Linked DNA regions of Homo sapiens. The protein of the gene in region 3 interacts with the protein of the main gene of each other region in a pairwise test. Each region holds a gene or a part of one and is shown on either strand. Other genes may lie near its edges. The genes, in order: ARL16, CFAP206 and GLYR1.

Evidence for each region.
Region 1: the proteins of GLYR1 (region 3) and ARL16 interact in binary tests that used the Homo sapiens proteins (3 or more experiments, as listed by UniProt).
Region 2: the proteins of GLYR1 (region 3) and CFAP206 interact in binary tests that used the Homo sapiens proteins (3 or more experiments, as listed by UniProt).

The regions. Positions count from the first base shown.
Region 1 is NC_000017.11:81,682,086-81,685,834, reverse strand, and holds the start of ARL16 (ADP-ribosylation factor-like protein 16), read left to right. Parts: upstream 1-2,037; 5' UTR 2,038-2,081; coding exon 2,082-2,142; exon of another isoform or gene 2,143-2,240; coding exon 2,241-2,299; intron 2,300-2,708; coding exon 2,709-2,822; intron 2,823-3,159; exon of another isoform or gene 3,160-3,592; coding exon of another isoform or gene 3,593-3,685; coding exon 3,686-3,749. Other genes in the region: HGS (hepatocyte growth factor-regulated tyrosine kinase substrate), read right to left, coding at 146-230, 1,732-1,768. UniProt on the Homo sapiens protein: May suppress the RNA sensing activity of RIGI in a GTP-dependent.
Region 2 is NC_000006.12:87,459,910-87,463,658, reverse strand, and holds part of CFAP206 (cilia- and flagella-associated protein 206), read right to left. Parts: intron 2,638-3,749; coding exon 2,494-2,637; intron 1-2,493. UniProt on the Homo sapiens protein: Essential for sperm motility and is involved in the regulation of the beating frequency of motile cilia on the epithelial cells of the respiratory tract. Required for the establishment of radial spokes in sperm flagella.
Region 3 is NC_000016.10:4,812,688-4,816,436, reverse strand, and holds part of GLYR1 (cytokine-like nuclear factor N-PAC), read left to right. Parts: intron 1-1,789; coding exon 1,790-1,900; intron 1,901-2,481; exon of another isoform or gene 2,482-2,598; coding exon 2,599-2,700; intron 2,701-3,749. UniProt on the Homo sapiens protein: Cytokine-like nuclear factor with chromatin gene reader activity involved in chromatin modification and regulation of gene expression. Acts as a nucleosome-destabilizing factor that is recruited to genes during transcriptional activation.

The DNA.
Region 1 (3,749 bases), on a different chromosome or scaffold from region 3:
AAAATCCTAGCATGTAGCCCATGCAGTTCTCCACATAAGAGCCTAACACGGTCAGCTACGTCGTGGAGACCCAACGGGCACCAAGCGAGCCCAGCTTAGTGCACGGCTGCTCCTCCGCATCAGGGCACAGGCCCCGCTAACTCACTGTGTGTCCCCTTGGCGGATCAGGTCGCAGATCTGCAAAATGGACTCCCAATCTGTCTCCAACAGGAGCTGGCTGGTCGCCTTGTCTGAGAGAGAAAATGCCATGAAAGGGAGGGGTTATCCTGCTGGACGCCCCGTGCAGCACCCCAGCTTGGCAGCAGCTGGGGGGGACTCTCTCCTTCCCCTTTAGACATTTGGACCAAATGAAAAAGCATGACAGAATCCTCCTGAGCGTGCTGATGGGCAGGGAAGTGCCATCCTCCCCAGGGAAGCAGCAAACAGCGTAAGAGCACACCAGGTGCTGGTCCAAGCCCTCCCACAACCCGCGAGCGAGGTAAAGACACTCAGCAGAGAGGCGAGGGCACTGCCGTGAGTCACACAGCTCACCAGAGACAGAGGCTGATTCACTCTTAAACATCAGGCTCGGCTGCTTCTCAACAAAGAACCCTATCACCCGTCCCTTGGAGTCCCCGTTCGCCCAGATGCTCCCGGTTTCAATGGGACCTTAGCTTGGGCAAGGGCTAGAGAGGCCTGCAGTGTAGACTCCAGGCCCCTTGCTCCAAGCCAAGTGCTTTGGAAATAAGGGCAGAACGGGGCTCCAAGGAGGACTCGCCAGCATACCTGTCATCATACCACATCACTGCTGTCTCCAACAACTGGCCCCTCTGGGGGGGCAGCTCCAGCTCTGCCCACATCGCCTTTCCCGGATACAGAAACGATCTAACAAGCCAAGCCACGTCCACTTTCTATACTGATTCAGTAGTTAACCTCTGGATTCATCCCTGAAGCACTGAACTACCTGTGTGGCTGAGATACTCAGTCTGCTTGCTGGTTCCCTTGGCAAGGAAGGTGTCTCACTTGAAGTCTCCTTGAAAACCCTACTTGACAAAAAGGCAAGCTTGGGCAGCCCATTCGACCACCCAAGCTCCTACCCCCAAACATTAGACGCATTTTCCACGTGCTGCTGGGCACGTGCACATCAACATTCGTTTCCCTCCCAAAACGCGTCAATTCCAGGAGGCTCAGATAGGATCAGCTTTCACCTCCAAAAACGTGAGAAAACGCCTTCCTAAACCATTAGGCACTTCCCGAAGCCAGTGTGGGAACAAAAGGTGGGTCTGGGACCCGCAGCCCCCAAGAGAGCTCGAAGGTCCCAGAGAGAACACTGCCGGCTCCACCCTTCGAGGCCCAGTGTTTTGGGTCAGAAGCCCAAGTGCGAGCCTAACATCCGACTGAGTCACCCACTTTCATGACTCAGGCCTTGTGGCCCACTCGGCCGGGTGCTCGTCGGTCAAGAGGAAATCGGCCGAATGCCCGGGCCCGCGGAGGAGCGAGGTCGCCGAGCGCCCCTGGCGCCCTGCGCGGACCCTCGCAGAGCCCCATTTGCCAACGCCCGACGGACGCCGACCCCACGGCCGCGCCGAGGGTCCAGGATCGGCGGCTCCGAACCCGGGAGGACAGCGGGCCGGGGAGAGGCGGGCAGGGCGGCCGGTCCGCGCCCCTCGGGCCCTCGGGGCCGCGCTGACTCAGCGCCGGGCGGAGGCTGCGGGCTGACCAAGGCCGAGCCGTCGGGTGGGGACGCGTTACCTAGGAGACGCTCGAAGGTGCCGCTGCCTCGCCCCATGGCGACCTCCAGCCCAAACCCGACGCCGCGGGCGCTCCCCTGCTACGAGCTGGCGCGCCCCCCGACTTCCGCTTCCGCCTTTTCCCTCCAGTGCGCGCACGCGCACGTCACCGCGCCGGCCCTAGAGCCGCGAGGAGGCGGGGTCTTCCGCTCTCCCGCTAACGCTGCGCGCTAATTGGACGCGCCCTTGGAACAATGAGCCCTAAGAACCAATGAGAAGTCCGAAGGTGAGAACTATCCAATGAGAGTGGCCGGTGGGCGGGCCTTGAGCCGCGGCGCCGAGCTACGGGTGCCGGGTGGAGCGAAGCACGGAATGTGTCTCCTGCTGGGGGCCACGGGCGTCGGGAAGACGCTGCTGGTGAAACGGCTGCAGGATATCCTTCCGCGCGGGGACGGGACCGGGGCGCGGGGGGCACCCGGAGTGGGGCGGGGACTCACCCTTTAGCTGCTCGGGTCCTTGACCGCTTCGCACAGGTGAGCTCCCGGGATGGGAAAGGCGACCTGGGGGAGCCGCCCCCGACACGGCCCACGGTAGGTGTCCGCCCCCGCGGGTGGAGTTGCGGGGGGTCAGTTCTGCGCTTGGCGAAGAGCTCCGGGCTCCTCTAAGTGCACGCCGAGGCGCAGCGGGTCAGGTCGTGACTTAAGGCCAGCCTTCGGGAGCGGGGGACGGCCCGAGCTGAGGATAATTGGCGCGGGATGAGGGGGCCTGCCGCCCTCCACGGGCACTTCCTCTCCCCTCGCAACGGCTTCCTGTGGCTGGTCGCCCCCACAGCGAGTCCAGCTACTGATGGGCGTCGGTCCCTGCTCGCCGTTCCTGCGTTAGGGAGAATGGGTCTGCGGGGTTCAGGCCACCGTGTAAGGTGTGGGCACGGTGCTCTTCAGGAGTTCACAACGGGACAGCGGTTGTATTGTTCTTTTTGCATCGTGGTTTTTCCTATAGGTGGGCACCAATCTTACTGACATCGTGGCACAGAGAAAGATCACCATCCGGGAGCTTGGGGGGTGCATGGGCCCCATCTGGTCCAGTTACTATGGAAACTGCCGTTCTCTCCTGGTGGGTTGTAATCCTATATGGGCTTCCTTTAGGGAAGTGTGTCTACATTTCTGTGACGTCCAGTCCCCAACCTTGCTGTGTGTAGAAAGGGGTTTGGGTTATTTAGTGACTATACTACTCATGGAAATAGGTCTTAGCTAGTGTTGCTTCCTGCTGGGCACCCTGTCTGGTTTCTGGTGCTTGCGCTCCCAGGCCCCCGGTAGGAGCTCACAGAGGGCTTGCTGAGGGCAGGGCTGCTGCTCCGCAGAGAACAGACTTGGCCCTCTGTGTCACTCCCCGGTACGTCTGTGTTTATGTTGGACTTATACGTACCTCTGGTTGGTCTCATCTTGATAAGGCCTGTGCCGCGGATACCAGTATGGAGAACTGATGGCCACATGAGGACAGAGACGAGTGACACCAGGTCGTCTTCATAAAACTCGATTCCCTCTGCTTCTGCTTGTTCCCAAAGCTTTGTTTAAAGCTACTTTGGGCCGGGCGCGGTGGCTTACTCCTGTAATCCCAGCACTTTGGGAAGCTGAGGTGGGCGAATCACGAGGTCAGGAGATGGAGACCATCCTGACTAACATGGTGAAACCCCGTCTCTACTAAAAGTACAAAAAATTAGCCAGGCGTGGTGGCGGGTGTCTGTAGTCCCAGTTACTTGGGAGGCTGAGGCAGGAGAATCACTTGAACCCTGAACCCTGGAGGCGGAGTTTCAGTGAGCCGAGATCGTGCCACTGCACTCGGAGCGAGACTTCGTCTCAAAAAATAAATTAATTAATTAAAAAATGCAGTTTTGCTCTCCCAGTGCCAGGTCTGTGAGGCCCAGGGGAGGAAGTTTGGCAGCGGGGCATTGCTGCTGTCTTTTTCTTTTTCCCCAGTTTGTGATGGACGCCTCTGACCCCACCCAGCTCTCTGCATCCTGTGTGCAGCTCTTAGGTCTCC
Region 2 (3,749 bases), on a different chromosome or scaffold from region 3:
AATATAAGATTTATACAGTATTATCTTTTAAAAATGGACTTCACCCTAGATTTTTAACATAAAAGAGTCTGATGCTTTCCATTTTGTATTTTACAGTATTCTACATTTTGCTTACTCCCTTTATAGATTATTAGTAAACATGAGGTTAAACAGATTACTCAGGCTGGGAAGCAAGGAGGAGCTTATAAAAAGAAGAATAAGGTTGCTGCACTTATAGTAAAAGCCAAGAAAAAACTCAAAAGGCATTATAGCATGTGAGTGAAGAAGGTGACACCTGGAATTAGAGGAAACATTTCAGAGTTTGAGATACTGCAGGTGACTGAGAACCGAAACTACTCCCCAATACCCAGGTTATTGTCCACATTAATATGACTTTACTATTCCATTGTCTTCATTAGCATGATTTTACCATTCCAAGAGACTCTTGCCTAAGCAAATAACTTGATTGCTCATTTCAGTAGTACCTGAGAGATGTGTCAACTCTTCAGTAGTAAGCATCAAAACACAGTTTCAGTCCTAAGAGTCTGCATCCCTTGCCTCAAAAAATCTTCTTGCTATTCCCACCAATGCTGGACTGCTTTTTCATGATCCTTACCCAATCCGATTCAAACCTCCATCCTACCCCCAGTCCACCTCAGTCATTGGAAGACCTGCCTTAGCAAACTTCAAATTCTCAATCAATTCTGACTTTGCAGTTCCTCTTCTGAGACACTGCCAAAGCACTGTTGAGGTGGTGTTTTCCCTTATGGCTGTAAGCAATAAACTCAGCTTTGTCTTATCCACAGGTTAGGTAGGTGACACTTGGGGAGCTGGCATTCAATATAATACAGTTCTAGGGAATAATAAGGCCCAAGGTGAGAGTCAGAATTAAGTGGAGATTGAGGAATGGGAAGAGAGGGCTCAGTCAGTATGAAGTTCAGACCCCTGAATACCCCATTCTCTTAACATTTCCAGTCCATACCTATGCTGTCACCTCTATCTCTCCTATCCTATCCAGCCATCACTTCCCTCCTCCTCTTTGCCTATTTGTATCTCAAAAGCAACATAAAATATCACCTATGTTAATTTAGTAGAATTTTCATTTCACTTCTGTTACACCACTTACAAGGAGGTACCACTTACAAGGAGGTACTGAAATATTTTTAATGTAACAGTATCACTTGCTAGAACAAAGTAGTGGGATATATATGTTACCCAATAAATCTAATGAACTCAAGTGAGTTTAGTAGATAATAGAAAATAATATGGGGGTTGGGCATTTCATGAACTACAGGAGAGTAACTGATAGGAAGGAATACTAATGGAACAATGATCTGGAAGATATATGGGGAAACTGATCCTTCCTCATGCCAGGGAACTGAAAAGCTGCCACCAGAGTGAGTAGCAAAGGAAATAATGTGGTCAGTGGGACTGAATATACAAATGGACTGAATATACAAATGGACAAAGGCTAGACCATATATGACAATAGAACTCTTTGACTTGCAGCCTGTACATCAACCAGTCAGGGAAGCCAGTCTCAACCTCTATAGCTGTAGCAGTTGACCCAGAATGTTGAAGACTTAGCCAACTTCTCCATTTTTTGGCCCCTTCTGCCCCAACTCAGGACCAACCAGAGAAACCTAGATATGCTCACCAAACCAATCTCATAAAATGCCCTGCTTCTAGTTAGCCTGCTTCCAGCTTTCTCATGTTAACAAACTACAATCAGAGAACATCTGAAGGCTTCCCCCTTTTCTGACTATAAAGCTTTCCCACTCCCCTGCATGCTTTGAGTCTACCAAACACAAGTGACAGTGTCTGACTCCCTTGCTACAGTAAGCTCTAAATAAATAGCCTTGCTTTGTTCTCATTTGGGTAGGCATTGTTTATTTCCACACCTGATTTCAGTTAAAGAGATGGATAAAATATACTAAAAAGGGGCTACAGACAAAATATTTTATTTTTTCCATACTATAAATATTTGTTGTTTAAAATGACAAGATACCATAAAGAGGGGATGGTGGGGGTAATTTCACTCAGTTGGACAGGGATGAGAGTTTCAAAGACAGGCTTTAAGGGTAGGTATCTATATTGTAATTAAGGTGACTGAGAATCAGAAGGATGAGAGTGCCCAGGGTCTGGAGATAATATGTTGTTGAGGGGAAAATATCTATGCTTTAATAGAAAAGGTCCAAAAAACAAACAAAAAAAAGAATGGTATACCTTAAGTGATTAAAGGAAGTTGGGAGTGCTTTAAATACTAGCACCAAGTTTTAAAACTGATGATAGACAGATAGATATATAGATATTATCATTGTTCTATATATGCTTAAAATTAGAAGACAATCTTATAATGTAAACCTAGCAAGTTATAAATTATATTTTTGTTAGCAAAGAACTCTGTATAAAACTCATTATTTTATATAAATAATTTAATTTACCAACTCTATGAGTAACAATAGATTAAAATTCCCCAACATATAAATAATTCTAGAAAGTATTGTTACAAACCAATTTTATAGCTTTTCTTCTTAATTCCCATTCATTCCACTCATATGATCTCACAATCGTTGGTGGCAGTATGTGTGTATTCGTCTGTGTGCTACTTTCACATTTTGTAATTGGTTTTATATAATGTTTGTCAGCATCTCTCATCTAAAGAAGTGGAGTTTTGTAGTTAGTGCTTGTAAAAAATAAACATTATTTACTGATAACTAAAATATTTAGCTAAAACTAACAAAACACTTAAAAAACAATAATTTTTGGACATGGAATATACTTGTAAATACCAATAAAGAAAATAAACACATAATTAATGAGCTGAATATAATTGTTTTTCTGGGAATTATGGCTTCGTGATTTTGTTAATGTAGGGGGTGTTTTTTTTTAACTTTTATTTTAGATTCAAGGGGGCACATGTGCAGGTTTGTTACAAGGGTATATTGCACAATGCTGAGATTCGAGGCAGGATTGAACCCATCACCCAGGTAGTGACCACAGTACCCACTAGTTCATTTTTCAGCCTATGCCCCCCTCCCACTCTTTCCACTGTTGCAGTCTCCAGTGTCTACTGGTCCCATCTTTATGTCCATGTGTACCCAATTTTTAGCTCCCACTTATAAATGATAACATGCAGTGTTTGGTTTTCTGTAGAACATGTATTTTGGAAGGAGAAAACATCCCTCATTCCCAAGTCAAATATCCCTCCCCACTTTGCACAACTGATAACATGAGTAAATACCTGTTGAAAATGGATAGAAATTGAAAATAGCTTTATTAGGTAAAAATCACATCTATTTGAACTATCAAAACCTCTTTAAGACATATGTTGAACTCAAGCTATGCATACATAGCAGGTTATTATCCAAGGTTTTTGCTTTGTTTTTAGTTGAATATACTGATTTTCTTTTGGGGAACCCAATATTAAGAATTCACTAATTCCAGGCTAAACAAGACATGATGGTGCTGGACATGACATTGTTGACGTTGTTGGAGGGAGTGGTAGAGGTTTAAGGTACTTAGGTCACAGTAAAAAGGAGGGAGAAGATATTCTTTCCAAACAACAGATAATCACTGAGTGTCTAACATTTGATATAATTTCTGACTATAAAATTATCTTATGATATATTTAGGTAGATTTTAAAAATGCTAAAAAGATAGTTAATAATACTGTACCATACAAGTAAATGGCAAGTAAATTAGACAGCAAGGACTACATGAAAAAGACAGAGATAAAACTCATTTCTGCAGATATTAAAGGTCACTGA
Region 3 (3,749 bases):
AAGAATAGGCTCACACCTATAATCCTAGCACCTTGGGAGGCTGAGGGAAGAGGATTGCTTGAGTCCAGGAATTTGAGACCAGCCTGGACAACATGAGACTCCATCTCTACAAAAAATAAAATATTAGCTGAGTGAGGTGGCACCTGCCTACTATAGTCCCAGCTACTTGGGAGGCTGAGGCCAGAAGATCTCTTGGGCCCAGGAGGTAGAGGCTGCAGTGAGCTGTGATCATACCACTGCATTCCCACCTAGGCAGCAGCAAGACCCTGTCTCAGAAAAGAAAAAGGACAAAAAAATGGCTCACAAAAGAGGAAACAAAGGCATAAAAAATATTCGGTAATCAGGAGTAATTAAAATATATCAAACAAGGCCGGGTGCGGTGGCTCATGCCTATAATCCCAGCACTTTGGAAGGCAGAGACTGGGGGATAACGAGGTCAGGAGATCGAGACCTCGGTGAAACCCCGTCTCTACTAAAAATACGAAAAATTAGCCGGGCACAGTGGCGGGCGCCTGTAGTCCCAGCTACTCGGGAGGCTGAGGCAGGAGAATGGCGTGAACCTGGGAGGCAGAGCTTGCAGTGAGCTGAGATCGTGCCACTGCACTCCATCCTGGGCGACAGCGAGACTCTGTCTCAAAAAAAAAAAATGAAACAGTTGCCTTTTTTGACTGGTTAAATGATCAGGTAGGAAGAATTTTACATGTATTTATGGGCACTTATTTGTAGTTTTTAAATTACATACTTGGTACTGGCATAATAGGAGAGCTTGCTGGTGATCTTTATGAAGTGACATAGTCTCATTGGGAAGTCATCTGTCTACATTTGTTGAGAGCCTTAAAACTTTTAGAACCTGTTTTATTCTATTTGTGGAGACCTGAATTTAAAACATAGAGAAGTTTTGTACGTAAAGATGTTTGGTGATGTGATTTTACAATTGAAAGTGGGCTAAGTGTCAAACTACAGGTCAGCCATTAGGTAAATCACAGTATATCTCTCAGTGAAGTTTTCCATAGTCAACCACTATAAACCATAATTATGCCAGAATTATGAAAGACAACAATATAGATAAATGTGAATCATAAACAACATTAAAAGTCTGATAGAAAATAGTAGGCCCATCCAGCCTGGGCAACATGGTGAAACCCTGTCTCTACAGAAAAAAAAAAAAATCACACATGGGGCATGCACCTATAGTCCCAGCTATTCAGGAGGCTGAGGCAGGAGGATCACTTGAGTCCAGGAGGTTGAGGCTGCAGTGAGCCATGATTGCACCACTGTGCTCCAGCCTGGGTGACAGAGCAAAACCTTGTCTCAAAAAAAAAAAGCCAAAATGGTAGTGTTTTTAGGCACTTCCAGAAGTCTTATTAACCTGACAACAGTGTTGAGAAACAACCCAAAAACGAATGGCCACCAGGTGGAAGGCTTCCAGCGACATCCCCACATTCCCAGCAGAGTGTTGATAGCTCAGGGCCACAGCCAGGACAGCACAGCGGGGGCTGGGGAGAGGTGCTACTGTTCATACCCCATTCTTGAAACAGCATACCTTCAGCAGACACTTGTGAAGCAGTTCATCATCCTAGGCACTCGTCATGCAAAAACTGAAGATGGCCAGTAAAAGGCCCCGTGCACTTCCCCAAAAGTTGGGCTCCTATCTCCATGACCCAGGCTCCCGGCCTCAGCCTCCTGCCTTGGTAGGCCGCCAGGAGGCCTGGTCAGCAATTCTCTGGCCTGGCTGGCATGTTTGTTGTGCACTGCCTGCAGCTCACGTTAGGATCTGTGACTTTTGCAGTGTGATTTGTTCATCCAGGAGGGGGCCCGTCTGGGAAGAACCCCCGCTGAAGTCGTCTCAACCTGCGACATCACTTTCGCCTGCGTGTCGGATCCCAAGGCGGCCAAGGACGTAAGGACCCCCTCCCTCCCCTCAGCAACTCCGGGTCACAGCCAGGATTGCTGGCTGGCCTCTTCCCCTCCTCCCCTGCACACCAAGTGAGTGTCCACATGTGGGGGGCTGAATTTCCCATCAGGGGCCATCTCCCATTGTGAAGGGTGTTTGCATTAATTGAATACAGACTTCCTTTAATTCAGATCAAAGAATGAACACTACTAGGGCCCTTGAAGTCTGTGCTGAAATGTGTCTTGAACAGGCTTCATGTGTTCTTGTTGAACTAGAAGCTTTGGAACTGAATGTGCCTTTGGTCCAGGTGCCAAGCTTCTATGTTTAGCTGTCACTGTATTTGTATATTTTAGAAGTTCAAGTGTGGTAGTCATCTTATTAAACTGGTGACTAGCCTAATCCAAGTAAATCCAAAGAAGTCCCCAAAGTAAATGCTGAGGTTTATTCTTTTAAATGGGGTTTGTTTTTTTTTTTTTTTAAATAAAAAGAAATGCACACACTCACATAGATTCTTTTTAAAGATAAATGGGAGCATGCGGGAAGTACTTTTCTATCCCTTGCTTATTTCATTGTTCTTCCCTTTTCAGCTGATAGAAATCAGGAAATGAGCCAAAACAGCAGCAGGATTCTGATCTGAGGTCTGTAGGGCTCCTGAGCATCTGCCCGGGAGCCTGGGCTATTGCTTCTCCCTTGTGTCCCCACAGCTGGTGCTGGGCCCCAGTGGTGTGCTGCAAGGGATCCGCCCTGGGAAGTGCTACGTGGACATGTCAACAGTGGACGCTGACACCGTCACTGAGCTGGCCCAGGTAGCAGCCTTCCTTGGGCTGGCTCTCCAGCATCTTTTCTATCAGAGCCCAAGACCCAGGCTTACAAGAGTGGGCAGTTAAGTTACTCTAGAGCCAAAGCCAGAGAGGGAAGAGGAGAGGCGAGTAGCCTTGGGACTAGCCTATCCCGTGCTCCACCTTCAAACCGCAGCTAGTCTGAACAGCCATGGGCAGTCGCTGCATGGCTGGGATGGGCATCAAGTCCTGGAGCTGCCAGCCTTATGATGAGAAGCAACCCAGGCCGCCCGCCTGGCATTGGGGTTTGAGCAGCTGTCTGCATTTGACACTGGCAAAGCATCCCTCCTCCCCGAGCATCTGGCCCAAATAAGGGAGTGGGGACTTTGGGACCCACATATGTTCTGAGGGGAGGGCAGCATCCACAGGGGAGGTGTGTGTTCAGCCGAGCCATTGACATGGTCACATCTGGTTCTAGTTGTTGGTCTCTAAGAAATTCCAGTCCGGGCGCGGTGGCTCACGCCTGTAATCCCAGCACTTTGGGAGGCCGAGGTGGGCGGATCACGAGGTCAGGAGATCGAGACCATCCTGGCTAACACGGTGAAACCCCATCTCTACTAAAAATACAAAAAAATTAGCCGGACGCGGTGGCGGGCACCTGTAGTCCCAGCTACTTGGGAGGCTGAGGCAGGAGAGCGGCATGAACCCAGGAGGCGGAGCTTGCAGTGAGCTGTGATCGTGCCACTGCACTCCAGCCTGGGCAACAGAGCAAGACTCCGTCTCAAAAAAAAAAAAAAAAATTAGCCAGGCATGGTGGCGGTTGCCTGTAGTCCCAGCTACTGAGGAGGCTGATGCAGGAGAATGGCATGAACCCGGGAGGCAGAGTTTGCAGTGAGCTGAGATTGCGCCACTGCACTCCAGCCTGGGCAACAGAGCAAGACTCTGTCTCAAAAAAACAAAACAAAAAAATTCCGGCCAGGCGTGGTGGCTCACTCCTGTAATCCAAGCACTTTGGGAGGCCGAGGCGGGCGGATCACAAGGTCAGGAGATCAAGACAATCCTGGCTAATATGGTGA